Linked DNA regions of Homo sapiens: region 2 is linked to region 1. The links come from fine-mapping of genetic effects on gene expression. A gene starts in region 1. The other region holds a variant in brackets. All regions are shown on one strand. Distances are from middle to middle. Region 1 holds the start of CLK4 (CDC like kinase 4). Region 2 overlaps ZNF354A (zinc finger protein 354A).

Evidence for each region. PIP is the estimated chance that this variant, and not a neighbour inherited with it, causes the effect.
Region 2: its variant is fine-mapped to the expression of CLK4 in whole blood (INTERVAL, PIP 0.98).

Annotation. Positions count from the first base shown.
Region 1 is chr5:178,621,867-178,630,437 of GRCh38, forward strand. CLK4 (CDC like kinase 4) reads right to left here and starts at 5,184. Exons shown (of 13, transcript NM_020666.3): 1 at 5,080-5,184; 2 at 1,390-1,550. The coding sequence starts at 1,550. RefSeq lists enhancers at 4,130-4,810, 4,543-5,152, 8,220-8,571.
Region 2 is chr5:178,718,314-178,726,884 of GRCh38, forward strand. ZNF354A (zinc finger protein 354A) reads right to left here. Exons shown (of 5, transcript NM_005649.3): 4 at 7,063-7,158. Among named protein-coding and RNA genes, the nearest start is that of ZNF354A, 8.1 kb to the right of the region's middle. RefSeq lists an enhancer at 5,030-5,530 and a silencer at 5,746-5,946. The variant G/A (reference allele first, on the strand shown) is at 4,636.

The DNA of each region.
Region 1 (8,571 bases):
TTTCCTACAGAGATTACCATCTTTATACTTTTCTGCATTTTTCAGTTTTTTGTTATTTTATAAAAACACTCAAAGTTTTTGACCTTCAAAAATTAGAATATTCTGGATCATGGTAAACGCTGACCACCAAACACATCTGGTACAAATATCAAAGCAGGCACTGGCCTGGTGGTTAACTGGACTCAGTATCATGTTTACGTAGTTAACTATGAGCACAAATGAACTGTTCATCACTCATATCACTTCCTTTCTATATATACAACGTATAATTATCCTATGAATAACCAGTACTATGACGTTAAGCCTTAGGGTTTTTTGTATTTATTAATAGTGGGGTACAGATGGTTTTTTTTAGTGTACTGTACATTAATTATTAATTATCTCTGGTCTCTGAAATCCTGTCATAAACCTTCCCCCTTCCCCTTATATAACAATGCGTATGAAGCATGATTTGTCTGCACTGACTACAAATAAGCTGTTTGGCAGAACAAGTCTGTTAACGTGGAGAAGGAAAGAAATTACATACTGTTTTTTAAAGTAACCCCAGCTGGCTAATTTAGAAAGCAATCTGGTAAACAGTCCCAATGGAACATCTGCACAAAACGAGAAAACAGAACCAACAAAACAAACGAAAAAGGGAAATTAATGAAAGAGTGAAAACTTACCTAGCCTTTCTTTAATCATTTAGAACTTTAAGATTCCTTTAATTCTATATAAATATATTACCTCCAAATTGTACACTGGTAAGAATACAATAAAACAGCACACATGCTGTTGCAAGTTTTTATTGAGGCCATTTCCCAAATTACTAGCTACTACCTATGCAAAAGAATAGTTCTTAAATAAAGCCAGCTTCTAAAAATCCCAAACATATCCCTTGGCCTCATCTACAAATATAACCTGTACGACATGGTATAAGTGACTAATAATACATGCTGCTTTTCTCTGTTGGAATAACTCCTCCCCTATAAAACCCTACCTTATTTCTGAAACAATGAGCACTACAACATACCCATCTCCCTCCTACATACAAGTTAAAGGTACTCATTGGGCATTCTATCACTATTACTTAACTTTTTGTGTGTCATCTCCCTAATCACGTTACTGGCAGTTGGGACTCACCATGTTATTTAATACATTTCACATTCACTTACTGATCAACTGTCTCCTACCACTCCCAGGCAGACAGACATACATAAGGATAAGAACTTTGTTTTATTTACAGCTGTAGCCTCAGCGCCTATCTAAAATAAGTACTCAAATATTTTCTAAACGAATATTTGTTGACTGAATTATAAAACAATTTGACAGATGAAAGCTATATAAGCAAATGACAAATCATTTAAAACTATTAGAGCTAAAATGCTAGTAGTTCAAGAGTTAATTTACCAATCAGATTCTTTAAACTGGTGATGTGGTTTACAATGCCTGTTCTCTTGTGTGCTACTATGAGATCTCCTCTTCCGCTTGTGACTTCCACGATAGCTTTCATGTCCCCAGCTTTCTCTGCTATCCCAATCAGGACAGTGAGTTCTTTTGGAATGCCGCATCTGTTGATAGAAATGAAAAGGGAATTGTGGAGGTTACAGATGTGTGATAGGTAAATTATTATATATTAATATTATTTAAGTTATCAAAACCCAACACACAGGGTCTTACAGGCTCCAAAATCTTTTTAGGTGGTAATGCTTCCCAAGGCACTGGTATGTCAGATGACTGCTAAGAGGCATAGAGATCTAGTATTAAATTGTGGGTAATACTGATACCTTAAGACATTTTTTTTTTTTGAATTCTGATTACAGCCAGGACAAATTCTCAGCTTGGTGCTTGTCTTCAACTAACACTTGCTAACTGCCTTTTTAAAAATTAAAAAAAAGCCGGGGGGGGCAAATAAAAAGGTTCAGGCCTAGTGTTTCCAGCAGACAAGAGTATTTAGCTAAAAATTAGTAACGTTTTTATTTATCTTATTTTGTTACTTTCTACTTATTAGTGATTTTCCAATTAAGTTATTGACATATTTTCTTTTAAAAATGTTAACATTAAAATGTGAGCTGATTTAAGGAGAAATAATATCAGTGTCATGCAGCTTTGGCAAAGTACTGTAATACAAATAACTGAAGTGCAAGACAAAAACACTTAGGGATACTAAATATGGGAGGTGACTTTGTTTTAATGGTAAAGAGCTATTCAATGATGAAGCTTCTTTTTCTCAAATTCTCCATAGTTCTTTTCTCTAAATCTCAGAATGACTCTAAGCTTTGAGAATATTAGTTCTGTGTGGATAGAACACAATATTCAACAGAGAAACTGAAGAGATATAAAAAGGTGATTTTAGGCCGGGTACGGTGGCTCATGCCTGTAATCCCAGAATTTTGGGAGGCCAAGCCCAGGAGTCTGAGACCAGCCTGCGCTACACATAGTGAAACTGTCTCTACAAAAAAAATTTTTTTAAATGTTTATGTGATTTTATGAACTCATTTTCTCTATCCAACAAGTTCATTTTCTTATCCAGCAGTTATTCTTAACCTTAAAATCTATTTGTAGTAAATCTGGAGTAACTCTGAAAAAGAACTCAACCTACAAGGATGCACACTGAAGCATGGTCACAGTGAAAGCAAACGATAACGGTGACAGCTGACTTTATTTACAAACTCCAGTGCATAACCTGGGTTCCTTCCAGGCTCAGCATCTGCGCTCAAACAATATAACCCCTATCTGTCTCTCCCCATCTTAATTATTTTCCAAAACAGTTAAGTTTTAACAGTCAGGTCCAAATTCTCCTAAACAGGGTGAGTTTAAATGGTAAAAAGAGAAGAATTTCACAATTCAGCAAGGAGCTGAAAAAAGCTAAAATGGAGTAAAACCCACTCAGTTAACCTCATTCAGCTTGCCCAAATGACTAATAAGCAAACAAATGCAAGCAGAAATTTAAATGATTTTAAATGGATTAAAGGTTTTGGAGTGAGGCAGCTTCAATTCTTCTGGGAGGTATTCCACAAGAAAGTATGTGTCACGCCATCAGAGTCTGATTGCCACCAGATAGTCAGATATTTTAATTCACTCTCTTGCTGATTCTAATTCTATACCCATCAAGCATCCTTCTAAGGTGGCTCTCAGCTCACTTTACAGAGGAAGAGAAGGCACTGATCAGGCCAAACAGCAATTCTAAAACTCTTGTTAGCGTCTCAATGGAAGTGAGCATTCCGGTTTGATACAAATGGAGTCACTTCCATATGGGAACGTGACATGAATAACAGCACACATTTACTTGAGGCAAAAGGCCAAAACACAAACTTTCTTCATTAGAGCTATCAAGAAAAATTTATGGCTGGACGCAGTGGCGCCTCATCCCTTGAGCCCAGGAATTCGAGACTGGCCTGGGCAACACGGCGAAACCCTGCCTTTACAAAAAATACAAAAAATTAGCCGCACATGGTGACTCGAGCCTGTAGTCCCACCTACTGGGACAATCACTGGAGCCCAAGGAAGTCAAGGCTGCAGTGAGCCATGATCACGCCATTGCATACCAGTATGGGCGACAGTGAGACCCTGTCTCAAAAAAAAAAAAAAAAAAAAAAAGAAAATGTGTATTTCAAGTGCAGTTCTTCTGAAGCGTTCCGTCAAATACCAAAGTTGTATTTTAACCACATCAGGAACTCAGCTTGGTTAAGCATTTTTAAATCATAGCAAGCAAAATCACATCTGATGACCGAGCGTTATTATTATGACCCTCCATTACTATGAAGTTTTTTTCAAGACTTATGTATCTTCTTCAGTTTTGTTTTTTCCTCTTCTACTGTAAGTCTGCTTACAACCAGCTAACCTCCAGCAAAACAGAACTCTCAAATTATCAGTTAATATGCAAACATTAAAATAAGAACGAGCTCCGTTGTGAGAGTCCAAAATTCTTCTCAAGTTCACTACTTCAAATGTAATTCAGCTGTTAGTCCCAGCCTCTGACCTCCCCCACTCACCCTGCAATGTTCAAAAATATTTTATCTGGAGGCACAAAGATCACCCGACCCACGTTCTACGTGGTAAGGTTCCTTCGCATACATAAAAAAGAAAAGCTATCTAGAATCATGACACTGCCTCTAATAAAGCATCCCACATGCTAGAGTAGGTATCTTTCAAAAAATAATGACACAATGGATCTCATATGTAGATCCATCGCCACTGCCCTTAAGATCCTGTAGTTCTTGACAACTTTACGCTACGTACATGGCTTAAAAACATCGAAACAGGTTATAAGTTTAGGATTGGATGGCTCCAAGAGGACTGCATTTAATGGGTTACAAGCCTGTAGGGGTGTGTAAAAAGCACAATCGCACAGGACAGCTATGAGGCAAGACAAAGTGGCTGGCGAGTTCAGTTTGCGGGGCGGTTTCCTAAGGATCGGATAAGCCTATCTGGACTATTTAGGCAACCAGGGATAATAAGATGCAAAACCACCAGAAACGCAGGTTCGCTGCAACAATGTTGTGTTCAGCATAGCACAGAGGACTAGCCTCCGCAAATTTCCACCTCTCACAAGCAGCTACTGCCCTCAACCACCTGGATTTGCACGGACGCCCGGTCCCCACCTCCCGGCTCCTGGGCACCCGGCCAGTGCCTTTGGCGCACTCAAGACAGGGGCAAATGCTTGACTCTGGAAAACCCCCGAAACGCTACAAACGGCCCAGGCCAGGAATCCAGGGGAAGACTTGATCTCCGACAACACGAATGCCAGAGACGGCTCTCGAAGGGTCTCCCGACAGGTCCTAGCGCCCGCCGGCTGGAAGAGGTCCCGACAGGGTTAACCAACAGCCGCGCTCGCCAGGCAGCAGGGGACCGCGAGCCCACGGCCTCCGGAGCCGCGACGCGAGCGGCCAGGGCCCTCAGAGAAGGGTCAGCGGCAGAACCGCGACGCCCGAGCAACTTTCGGTGCTGCCGGCGTGCACCAGCCGAGCAGCGCCTCGCAGAACTCCCAACTCAGCTCCAGAAGCCCAGGCCCCTAACGCGGTCGTTTCTCCGACACCTGGCTCGGAGACCTAAAGACCGACAGCCGCCTGTCCCAGCACACACCATCTGCAACCCTACCTCCGCAAAAGCAAATGGCCCTTCGGCCGAGAAATGTCGCCAAACTGCCGTCTTCCCTCCTCGGCCGCTGCGACAAACACCCCACAAAATGGCGGCAGCGCCGTCGCCCTAGAATCCCCCGAGTCGCCTCTAGCACCACCTACGCCGCGCGAACGCGCCTGCGTGACAGAACCTTGCGCGCTCCCGCCGCTCCACCTAAGGGCGGGGCTCCACGTGACGTAAGAGCGGGGCTCGAGCCTCCACACTGCGGCTGCGCGGCCCAAGCATTTCCACCCCCCCCCCCCCGCCCACCCGGTCCCGGGGCCTCTAGGCCGGGAGGGTGTTTACGTTCTCTACGGGCTCGGGTGGAACCGGGAAGGAACGCCCGTGTCCCGCCCTCAGTGTGTACCGCGTGTCTGCCCCCTCCCCCGGGACCTCAACTCCCGCAGCCGGCACCCGACAACGGCCCCAAAACCGCCTAGGGCGGGCCTTGGCTGGTCCCTGGGCTGTTCCCTGGACTGGGTGCTTGTCCTGCCCACTTGGCGCTTCCAGTCTAAGGTGGATTCGGACAAAGAGGCTGTCTCAGAAAACAAGCTCAAGGGGTGCTAATCTTTTCAAGGCACGTGCTCCTATTCAGAACAAAACAAAAACCCGGAGGTTTCAATGGAGACTCCTGACAAGGTTTTCCTGTTAGGATCCCTACCTCCTGAGCAGTTAAGGTCGCTGGAAGTTTCCCTAACGAAGTTTTCCCCATTTTTTTTTGTCCCTGCGGGCTGATTTTATTCAAGGCTGAAAAATGTCTCTGAGCTAGTGATAGTCCGTTATGGGGCTTGCTTACCTCAAATAAGGTATTCTGCAGTTCTGAGGACCCTCAGGCAGTTCCCCCGTGTAAGTATGTAACATGAGAAATATTAGGGTCAAAGTCGGAGCCCTGTGGGGAACACTCAAGGGCCAGAGGGAAAGGGGCCTGAGAAGGAATGATCAGCAGAGGAGGAGAACCAAGAATAGGGTGTCAAAGCAAGGAAGGGCGTAAGTGAGGGAAAGGGTTTAGGTGAGACTGAAGATCGTGGGGGGGGACGGCGGGCGGGGTGGGGGTTGGCTTCTGTATTCTGACGGGGATTCGCTGGATAAAAGGGAAAGCTAGAAATCAAATTTGGGAGGGTAGGGTTGAACTCTTGCGGGTATTAGCCCAGTAGCATGTGGGAGACCTGTTATCCTGTTAGGTGAAAGGAGGGAACGGAAATACCTTTAGTGATCTAACATGATAGAAACTTGTGCCATCTGGTTTGGGTAAGTAGGGTAAATTTAGATAAATCTCGGAGATTGTACAGCATTTCAAAAAGTAAGTTGAATTTTCATGGAGATTGCACTCCAAGAAGCGAAGTTGAAAAGAAACTTGGAAAACTGGAAGGGTAAACTCTTTATGCTACAGAATGAAACAAATGATATTATTTTCATCTAGAATAGCCACCATTTTTGCATCTACAAATTTAAATCTTACTCATCCTTGAAAGGCCATTTCTTTAAGATGCTGTCTCTGACATGAGTTCCCACCCATTTCCCGGCTCCTGACTACTCCAGTTAGATGTGAAGTCCTCAAATAGTGGAGTATTTGGAGCCACCTGGTATGCTAACAGATTTTGCCCAAAGAGTGAAATGTATTGGTTCTACAATTGATTACACATCCCGTCTCAAGGGAATCTATTAGATAGAATGTTGAGCTGACTGGTCTGGGCGATAATACAAGGTAGAGTGGGGCTCAAATTGCAGCATATGAGAATGTAAATTCAAGCTGGCACCAAAGAATGTTCTCCTGTTTCATGGAGTAGGAGAGATCCTGCCTCCTGGGGTTATAAGAAAGTGTGGTCAGGACAGCCCACAATTCTGCTCAAAAAAGCAACACTATGTTAAAAAGCAGCCACTTGAAATGCCACCTACAGAGGCCTTTATATTATAGACGTCACACACACTGTTACCCAATAGTAGAGTCTGCTTTGTAATTACATTCATCTCGCTTTAGTGTTTTAATTTGTATGCCACCAAAAGGTCTAATGTTTAAAAGTGTGTAGTGATCAGAAGGAAGCTGAGAATGACTAGCACCTCTATGCTATGTGATGCAGCACTATGGTGCCCCTAGTCACTCTCTGTGGCTTTGTGCTGAGTTTGGAGACAAGGACCTGATTTATATTGTCTTTGGTATCTCAGGCCTAGAACCCAGTAAATATTTGTAGGTTGTTTACATAAGCTGCTTTGGGCCATTTTGCTCAGTTGGTTTAAGGTCAAAGTGAGTAAGTTAAAGGTAGACATTTCATCCCAGCATCACTGCACCAGTTAGCTTACCACCCTTTCGTGGCAGCCTCAACCCTTCCTATTAAGTCAGTTACCTGGCAAGACTTAATGAAAAGGTTTATCTAAATTTCTGAGAATCTACTACCAATACCAGAAACACTGCCTAATCCAGTGGTTTCATCTCTACACAAGAACAGTATGTCCAAAAAAACCTTTGAGTTAACTGATGTGTCCAAGCAGCTAGTCAAAGGCTGGGCACAGTGGCTCACGCCTGTAATCTCAGGTTGCAGGCAGAGGTGGGTGGATCACTTGAGCCTGGGATTTCAAGACTAGCCTGGCCAACATGGTGAAATCCCATCTCTACAAAAAATACAGAAAAAAAATTGGCTGGACATGGTGGTGCATGGCTGTGGTCCCAGCTACTCGGGAGGCTGAGGTGGGAGGATGGTTTGAGCCCAGGAGGCAGAGGTTGCAGTGAGCCAAGATCGTGCAACTGCACTCCAGCCTGGGTGACAGAGCCAAACCCTGTCTCAAAAGCAAAAACAAAAAGAACTAGTTTAAGAATTTTTTTGGCTGGGCACGGTGGCTCACGCCTGTAATCCCAGCACTTTGGGAGACCGAGGCAGGCGGATCATGAGGTCAGGAGTTCGAGACCAGCCTGGCCAATATGGTGAAACCCCGTCTCTACTAAAAATACAAAAATTAGCTGGGCATGGTGGCGGGTGCCTGTACCCCCAGCTACTTAGGAGGCTGAGGCAGAAGAATCGCTTGAACCCAGGAGGCGGGGCTGCAGTGAGCTGAGATCGTGCCGCTGCACTCCAGCCTGGGTAACAGTAAGACTCTGTCTCAAAAAAAAAAAAAAAAGAAATTTTTAGCTTTGAAGAGCAACCAAAGGAATATTCTTATCACATATTCTAGGATATGTATACGACATGCTTAACTTCAGACATCAAAAACACTCATATATGAGAGCCAGGTTTTAGAGTAAAAGTCTAAATTATTGTGTAAATTAAACAAAAGCTTATTACCGTATAGAGTAACCTTTACAAAGGTATAAACCTTTGCAGTTATAGCCTCTGTTATTAGCTGCTGGTTACTGATACTTACTAATTAGACTTGCTTTTAGCTATCAAATGCTCATTCTATGCTAACCACTTCATATACATGATCTCATTTAATCATCTGAATCCTATCAAGTGATCATTGGTTATCTGCCCTAGATCA
Region 2 (8,571 bases), 96 kb after region 1:
AACAAGGTGAAGACCTAGGTCAGAAGTTGAGAAGCCAGAATCATCTTGCTGATGGCCACTGCCCTGACCACTTCCTGTTATCAGGTCTAGACTCTTCCACCTGGACTCTCACTACACCCAGAGAGTGTTTCTTCAACCCTATCTCCCTGGATGATTTCATTTACTCCCACACCTCTTATGTGTACGACTATCCTGAAAAATACTTTACAGAGGTCTTTCCAACTGCCGGTTAGAATTTCCACTTGTGTATCTTTCTTTTTAAATTCAGCCTGTCCAAATCTGAACCCAGAGCATTCCTTTTCAAACCTTTTTTATATGTTTTCCAGTTCAAAATGACACCATCATCTCTTCAGTTAATTTACCGTAAATTCTTAGTTTTATCTTAGAATTTCTCTTCCCTAGGCAGTCATCAAAATCTTCATTTTTTTGTTTTTTGAGAGACAGGGTCTTGCTCTGTTGCCCAGGCTGAAATGCACTGGTGCCATCATAGCTCACTGCAGCCTCAAACTCCAGGGCTCAAGCGATTCTCCCACCTCAGCCTCCTGAGCAGCAGGAACTACGGGTGCACACTGCCAAGCTTGGCTAATATTTTTATCTTGCGTAGTGACAGGGTTTCATTGTGTTGCCCAGGCTGCACATTCTCTTAAATCTCATCACTAAAATGTCTCTAATAAGCCATCGTGAATATGTCTAAGTTCAGGATCTCCTCACTGTAGAGTGACTTGCTCCTGATCTTAAGTTATTCCTTTGACCTGTTTCTTGCCTTTCCAGTATTATTTCCCACTGGATTTACCCCTCTTAATACACAGAATTGGTCATGTTATTTCAAAAAGCATTGGTCACGCCTTACTTTATTAATTTATCAAATATTTAAAAAGTACCTACTATGTATTAGGCTCTATCCTAGGCATCGGTGATCCACAGTTCCCTACGGATCCAGTAATTAAAAGGAACAGTTGATTTCTTCAGAGAGTTTATAGTCAGACATTAGAAATGAAGACATCAGTAGGTAATCACAATACAATGTGACAATTTCTACAATAGAAACATAAGCTAGAAATGGACGTGAACACGAGCTTAGAATCATATCCAACTGTCCTTAGATAGTGAGGGTGCAGGTAGAAAAGGGGTGCAGCAGGACGCTGCTGGAGTGTTTCGTAAGAATTGACATATAAGATAGGATGTGAAAGGAATCGCCATAGGCTAGATGAAGGGGTAGCACAAGGGCTGAAGGCAGCACCCAAGTCTTTGAATGCAAGTCAGTTTTCCAGACTTATTTGCTGAAGTATCCACCCCCACCTTATCCTATAGCTAGTCAGAGTAAAAGCTCCACCTATAAAAATGTCACTTGCGGCCGGGCGCGGTGGCTCACGCCTGTAATCCCAGCACTTTGGGAGGCCGAGGCGGGCGGATCACGAGGTCAGGAGATCGAGACCATCCCGGCTAAAACGGTGAAACCCCGTCTCTACTAAAAATACAAAAAATTAGCCGGGCGTAGTGGCGGGCGCCTGTAGTCCCAGCTACTTGGGAGGCTGAGGCAGGAGAATGGCGTGAACCCGGGAGGCGGAGCTTGCAGTGAGCCGAGATCCCGCCACCGCACTCCAGCCTGGGCGACAGAGCGAGACTCCGTCTCAAAAAAAAAAAAAAATGTCACTTGCATTTGCAGTCTCACAAGGTTTTCTAGAGTCAGAGAACTCAAGGAGCAATCTGCTGGGAACTGCACATAAACCATGATGGGGGTAGTACTGCCTATTTGTAAACATCCTCTATCATCTTTGTGCTGGTGGAAAAGAGAAAAGCTGTTTTAGAAATGTTGTTGTGGTAACTCTTATTTTTAAAGCTTTTAACATAGAAATTTTCAGCATATGTAAAAGTAGTGTGAATTGTACAGTGAATCTCCAGCCAGTTTCAATAACCAGCAACACTATTCTATTGACAACCTTGTTATGGGCTGAACCGCATCATTCAAAAGAGAGACGTAGAAGTCCTAACTTCCAGGACCTCAGAACGTGACCTTACTTTAAAATATGGTCTTTGCACGTTCAATCAAATTAAGATGAAGTCATTGGGGTGAGCCCTAATCCAGCGTGACTGCTGTCCCCGTAAACTGGGGAAATTTGGACACAGGCATCCAGAAGGAAAGATGATGTGAAGACACCGGGCGAACACAGTGTGAAGACGGAGGCACAGATAGGACTGATGCAGCTGCAGGCCACGGAGATCTCCAAGTTGGCCATCGCTACAAGCTAGCAAAAGGCAAGGAAGAATTCTATGCAGAGTCTCAGAGGGAGCGGGGCCCTGCGAATATCTTGATTTTGACCTTCAGAACTGTGAGACAGTAAATCTCTACTGTTTTAAGCCACGAAGCTTGTGGTACTTCAGTATGGAGCCCTAGCAAACTAACACAAACCCTTTCATCTCGTCCACTAGGTTATGCTAGAGCACATCCCAGACAGCAAAATCATTTCATCTGTAAAAACATCAAAACCGCTCTTAGCACATCCATCAAAATTAACACCACTGCTTGCAGTTACTTTTGCCCCTAGAATACCTACACTAATAAGTCAAACTGCTGCAATGTAAAGGCAATTCAAATAATTCTTTTTGTGGCTAAGCCACCAACCTGGAACACAATTAGGGTTGTTTCATTCTGCTTTCAATATGTAGGGGGTACTTTCTCATTTTTGTTTAATTTTGTCTTATAATTTTATAAACCATTTTTATAGTTCTGAAGTCAAAATTTTGAGACCTCAAAAAGTCATAGATTCTACCCCTGTTCCATCCTTTTTCTTCCTTCACCTTAGAGATAACCATTTTTATTGATCTCCTTTTTTTTCTTTTGCTTTTATCTTTCTAAAAAAAATAATTGCACTGCTTAATGACTGGGATATGTTCTGAGATACGCGTTGTTGGCGATGTTGTGCAGTCATCAGAGTGTGTTACACAAATCTAGATGGTATAGGCTACTACACACCTAGGCTATACCCCTATACAGCATGTTACTTAGCTGAATACTGTAGGCTACTGTAACACAATTGTAAGTATTTGTGCATCTCAACATATTAAAACATAGAAAAGGGACAGGAAAAATGCAGTATTATCATCTATGGGAGCATCATCATATATGTAGGCTATCATTGACTGAAACATTATGTGCTCCATGACAGTGTAAGTAAATACACACACACTTTTCTTGGTATTCCCACCCACCTTTCTTAGATAACAGTACTAACTGTGCTGTTCTGCACTTATTCTCACATTCTGGAGATCACTCCATAGTAGAAGTTACAGAGGTCCTCCTCATTCCACTTTACAGCTGTGTGGACGTACCACAGTTTATCATCCTTGGAGTGCCTTAGCTTTAGTTCTAGGCCCCCAGTTCTTCTCACTCTGCATCTTTCCACAGGCAACTTCAATCATAGACTCATCCTCTAAGCAAGATATCTCCCATACTCGACTCCCCCTTACAGACGACCTACTCAAAAGAGCAGTTCAGATGCCTCAAAGTCAACACACCTAAAACCACACTCACGATTCTTCCCTCCGACCTGGTCAACCCCTTGTCTCTGTAAATGGCACCACCTCTGAATCAAAACCTTAAGAGTTATCCTTAATAATTCTCCCTCCCTCAGCCCCCTCATCTAATCAATTACCAAGACCTGTTTATTCTGCCATCTAAATCTGCCTCACATTCGTCTACTTTTCCCCATCTACTGCTACCATTCCATCATGAGCCTTGCCTCCAATGTCACCTGCCTCTCCTGATTTTCCTTACAGTACGCTTTTACCTGTCTTCCCTATGGGTTCATTTCTCTCTGCCTGGCTTCCTGAAATGCTGGAGTTCCTCAAGATTCAGTCTTAGGCTCTTTCTTACTCTTACTGTAATGTGAACACTCTCCCTAGGCCAACTCATCCTCTCCCATTATTTCAATCACCCTATATTGATCAGGTTCTCCCAAATTTACATTTCAAGCTCAGTCTACATTTTGAGGTACTGTACTCCGAAATCAACACTACTTGTCATCGCCACTGGGATAACTAGGTCAACCAAAAACAGCTCAATTAATCTAAAACCAAATTTACATCATCTCCAAATCTGATCTCCTTCTAGTGTTCCTATCTCACTGAATGACATCACCAACCGTCACAGAACAAACCAGAAACCAAGCAAGCATCCCTGACAACCCCATCTCCCTTTTGTTTGCTTTTATTTTCTTTGTTACCCCATCTCCTCTATCTTCCATGTCTAACAGTCCTGCTGGCTGTATCTCCTGGACATCCCTGGGACTGGTTCACTTCTTTCTGTCTCCAACACCACTAACCTAGTCCAAGTCACTCGTGCATTCATTATACAACTGGACGCATACCCTGGCCAGGGACTGTTTTAGGTTCTTGGAAAACAGGAGTGAATGAAACAGGCAACCCCTCCCACAGCAGCTTACAATGCAGAGGCAGAGACAGATCATGAAGAAACAGATCTATTACACAGCGCTAAGCACGAGGAGGGAAAATAAAGCACGGTGAGGAGATGGCGTGGGGGCTGCAGGGCTGCGTGTCAGATGATCTGTGCCTGTGTGAGCCGAAGCCTGTGCAGCACAAGGAAGTGAGCGAGCCACATGGACGCATGACCGCCAC[G/A]AAGAACAGTCCCAGACAGAAAAAGCAGGGCAGAGGCCCTGAGTGGGGGCCTGCTTGGCGCCCCCCATGACACACTGCAGGGCGGCCAAGGGTGATCAGAGGCCTCGAATGAAGGGCAGAGTGGAAGGAGCTGAGAGTGAAGAGGTAGCCAGGGCCAGACCACGTAGTGTATTTCTCCCAAAGGAGAGTTAAAAAGATAAACAAGTGTGGTTCCCATATAAAAAAATCTCACCTTTCTTCAGGGAGGAGAAAGCTCTCCCCAGCACAGGGGCTGTGGGGACCGAGGCTGCCTGCCCTGCAGCTCCTTGCTGGGCCCATGGCATAAGGGGCCATCACTGAGCCCTCTGGACCTGACAAGCCCTGCACTGTGGCCGTCAGGTTCTCCACATGGGCTGGCGGCTGCAGAAAGCAGCCTAGGCCTGCCCTGGGCTACTTACGGCTCCTCAGAACCTGTGCCTGGCTCTCAAGCACCAACCAAACCCTGTGACAGGGCCCGTGGCTCTCTCTCGGGTGCTCCACCTTCTCCTCGCTGGCTTTGCTTCTCTGGACCTTCATGAACACCTTTCTTTAGGCCTGAGCAATTCTTCAGTCCTTTGATCCCAGGCCCTTCCACAGGGAAGCCTTTGCTGACGCCACCTGCCTGCTCTGCACTCTCACAGCACCGAGTGTCTTTCCCACGTGGTCCTCACTGGAATGTGTCCTTCTGTGCCTTGTGTGCAATGAGTGTGTTCACCTTGTCCCCCACTAGATCGTGCACTCCAGAAGCAGGAGACCTGTGTCCCTTTCTGCCCAATGCTATACAAAGCTGTGGGCGAGGGTTCAACCTTGATCCCCCAGAGCCAGAGCCCCCCCAGTTCAACCACTCTCAGTCCCCCACTGCCACGATGGCCCCTCCCCGTTTCTCTACTCTGATTACTTCTCGGGCTCTGTCAGATTCCTCCTGCTTAAGCACCTCGCAAATGCTGTTTCCTGAAATTCGGGCCTCCACTTGGCCCCCTCACCTGGCCAGCTCCAAGCTTCTAATGCCCATCATGCTAATGGGCTCCCTGACCTCCCTTGAGTCTCGGCCCTGTCACTTACACACCTGCCCACCAGGGTTCCCCACCTGACGACTTCACTCACATCTCAAGTGAAATCCATCCCACACCCAACTGCTCCTGTACCCTGATCACGTGGGCGCCGCCTCCTCCCTCACGAACTCACGGCAAGTGCCTTCATCCAGGCCCTTCCACCTCCTGCCTCCCTCCATGACTGCAATCGCTCTGCAAGGCTTCCCGCCTTTTTTTTTTTTTTTAAGACAGAGTCTCACTCTGTCGCCAAGGCTGGAGTGAAGTGGCGCAATCTCGGCTCACTGCAACCTCCGCCTCCCGGGTTCAAGTGTTTCTCCTGTCTCAGCCTCCGGAGTAGCTGGGATTACAGGCCTGCCCCACCACGCTTGGCTAATTTTTGTATTTTTAGTAGAGGCAGGGTTTTGCCATGTTGCCCAGGCTGGTCTCAAACTCCTGACCTCAGGTGATCCGCCCGCCTCGGCCTCTGAAAGTGCTAGGATGACAGGCGTGAGCCACCGTGCCCAGCGTTCTGCCTCACTTTCAAACACGATGCTTCCAAAGTGACCATTCTTGTGAATTCAAATCACATAAGAACGTCACAAATATATTCTCTTTGTGAAACATTAAAATACTACATGTAAGTAATGCCCCCTTCCATGGACCCATTCTCAATCCCATTCCAAGTGTAACTAATGTCATCAGCTAAGGTGTGTCCTCCTAACCTTTCTCTCTGCTTATGTGCACATTACACATACACATAATTTTCATTAGACATAAATGGTGGCGTCCTAACAATGCTCTGTAACTTTTTGGGAGCTCTGTCCACGTCCCTGGACTCTTGTTTTCAGGGTGGTGATGCTCACAGGTCCCTTAGCTGTTCTTACACGGATGGAGACTCAGCTGTTTCTGATTCACACCAACTTTTCTAAGATACCAAGGACCATATGATTCCTGCCCAAATCCTTCCATTATTTCCAGTGCTCCATGGGACAGTTTCCACCTCTTAGAACCGTGCCCAAGCACTTACCACGCGGCCCTTCCCTAGCTTTCTAGGCTATTTCCTTCCTCACCTCCTCCTTTCCCAAATACACCCTGAGCTTCAGCCAGAGTGATTATTTGAAATTCCTTAAATAGACTATGTTTGCTGAATGAATACATGAAAATACAGCCCTATTCTAAAACAACAGGAAAGAGTAAGAAAGAGATTCTGAGAGATTCATGGGGAAGTGAATCCTGCCTAAGAGCCTGGGCTTCCGCTTCCCCATCACTTCTTGAGGCCTGAGAATTCTCAAGGGAGTTTCCCAACCAACGTTCCTACCTCCTCTCATTAACCAGACCATTGTCTGCGGCCATTCCGCACCTCGGGCCACCCACTTACCTAGAGAGGAGACGCCAGAACCGTCTTTCTCCACCTCCCAGGGATCTTCTCCTTGCTGCAACAGGGAGATCACTTTTGGTTTGGTAAATGGGAGCCCTGCACATAAACAAAAAACCACAACCAAACAAATCAGACTTGGTTTTGTATTGATACAGTTATCCCAAATTTAAATACAGAACTCACAGGATGGTACAAAGAGCTTCTGTGTAGGGCTTCAGTTGTGCCCCTGGGAGGTAAGGGGGTAAGGCGGTAGGGTGAGGAAAAGACAAGTGACTTGTAGGACATGACTCTGGGACAATTAATTATAGGTTAGGAAAATATGATCAACATGCAGTATTGGTAATAGGATACCACTAGCTTTCTATAGAAGAGGAAATGTTAAGATATACAGACTGATTAGAATTTCTAAGTAGGTTATCTATGAAAAGGATTATGTACCAGGTAGCTTGTCTAAAACGAGAAAACACTATCTGACTCCGCTTTTTTTTTCTGAGGAGGAGTCTCGCTCTATTGCCAGGCTGGAGTGCAGTGGCGCAATCTTGGCTCACTGCAACCTCCGTCTCCCGGGTTCAAGTGATTTTCCTGCCTCAGTCTCCCAAGTAGCGGGGACTACAGGAACATGCCACCACGCCTAAGTTTTGTATTTTCAGTAGAGACAGGGTTTCACCATGTTGGCCAGGATGGTCTTGATCTTCTGACCTTGTGATCTGCCCGCCTCGGCCTCCCAAAGTGCTGGGATTACAGGTGTGAGCCACCGCGCCCGGCCTATGTGACTCCCTTTTAAGGATGGCAGTGATCAGCAAACTACGGGTCATGGGCCAAATTCAGACCACTGCCTGTTTATGTATGGCCCTGTGCAAAGAATGGTGGGAAAAAAAAAGAGAAATATGTTACGGAGACCATTACGCAGCCCACAAAGCCTAAAGTCTTTACTACGTGGCTTTTTTTTTTTTGAGACAGAGTCTCGCTTTGTCGCCCAGGCTGGAGTGCAGTGGCGGGAACTTGGCTCACTGCAAGCTCCTCGCCATTCTCCTGCCTCAGCCTTCAAAGTAGCGGGGACTACAGGCGCCCGGCATCACACCCAGCTAATTTTTTTTGTGTTTTTTAGTAGAGACAGGCTTTCACCACGTTAGCCAGAATGGTCTCTATCTCTTGACCTCATGATCTGCCCGCCTTGGCCTCCCAAAGTGCTGGGATTACAGGTGTGAGCCACCATGCCCAGCCTACATGGCTTTTTATAGTAAAAGTTTGCTAATCCCTGGAAAAGACAAGTGGGAAAGGCAGGTGGTAGGCCTAGAGGCTGAATGAAGCTCCCTGTTGGGAGACAAGCAAACTACAGAATCGTTGGGAAACGATGCCTGAATCATGGACAAACTTGGAGTGTGTGATTACATAGAGAGAGAGGAATGATTATCAATACCACCTCTTCCATTCCCAGACACAGGGCAATTTCATGCCTATAAGGGGGAATAGGTTTTTAATGTTTATTTATAAAGATCTGATTTGTAC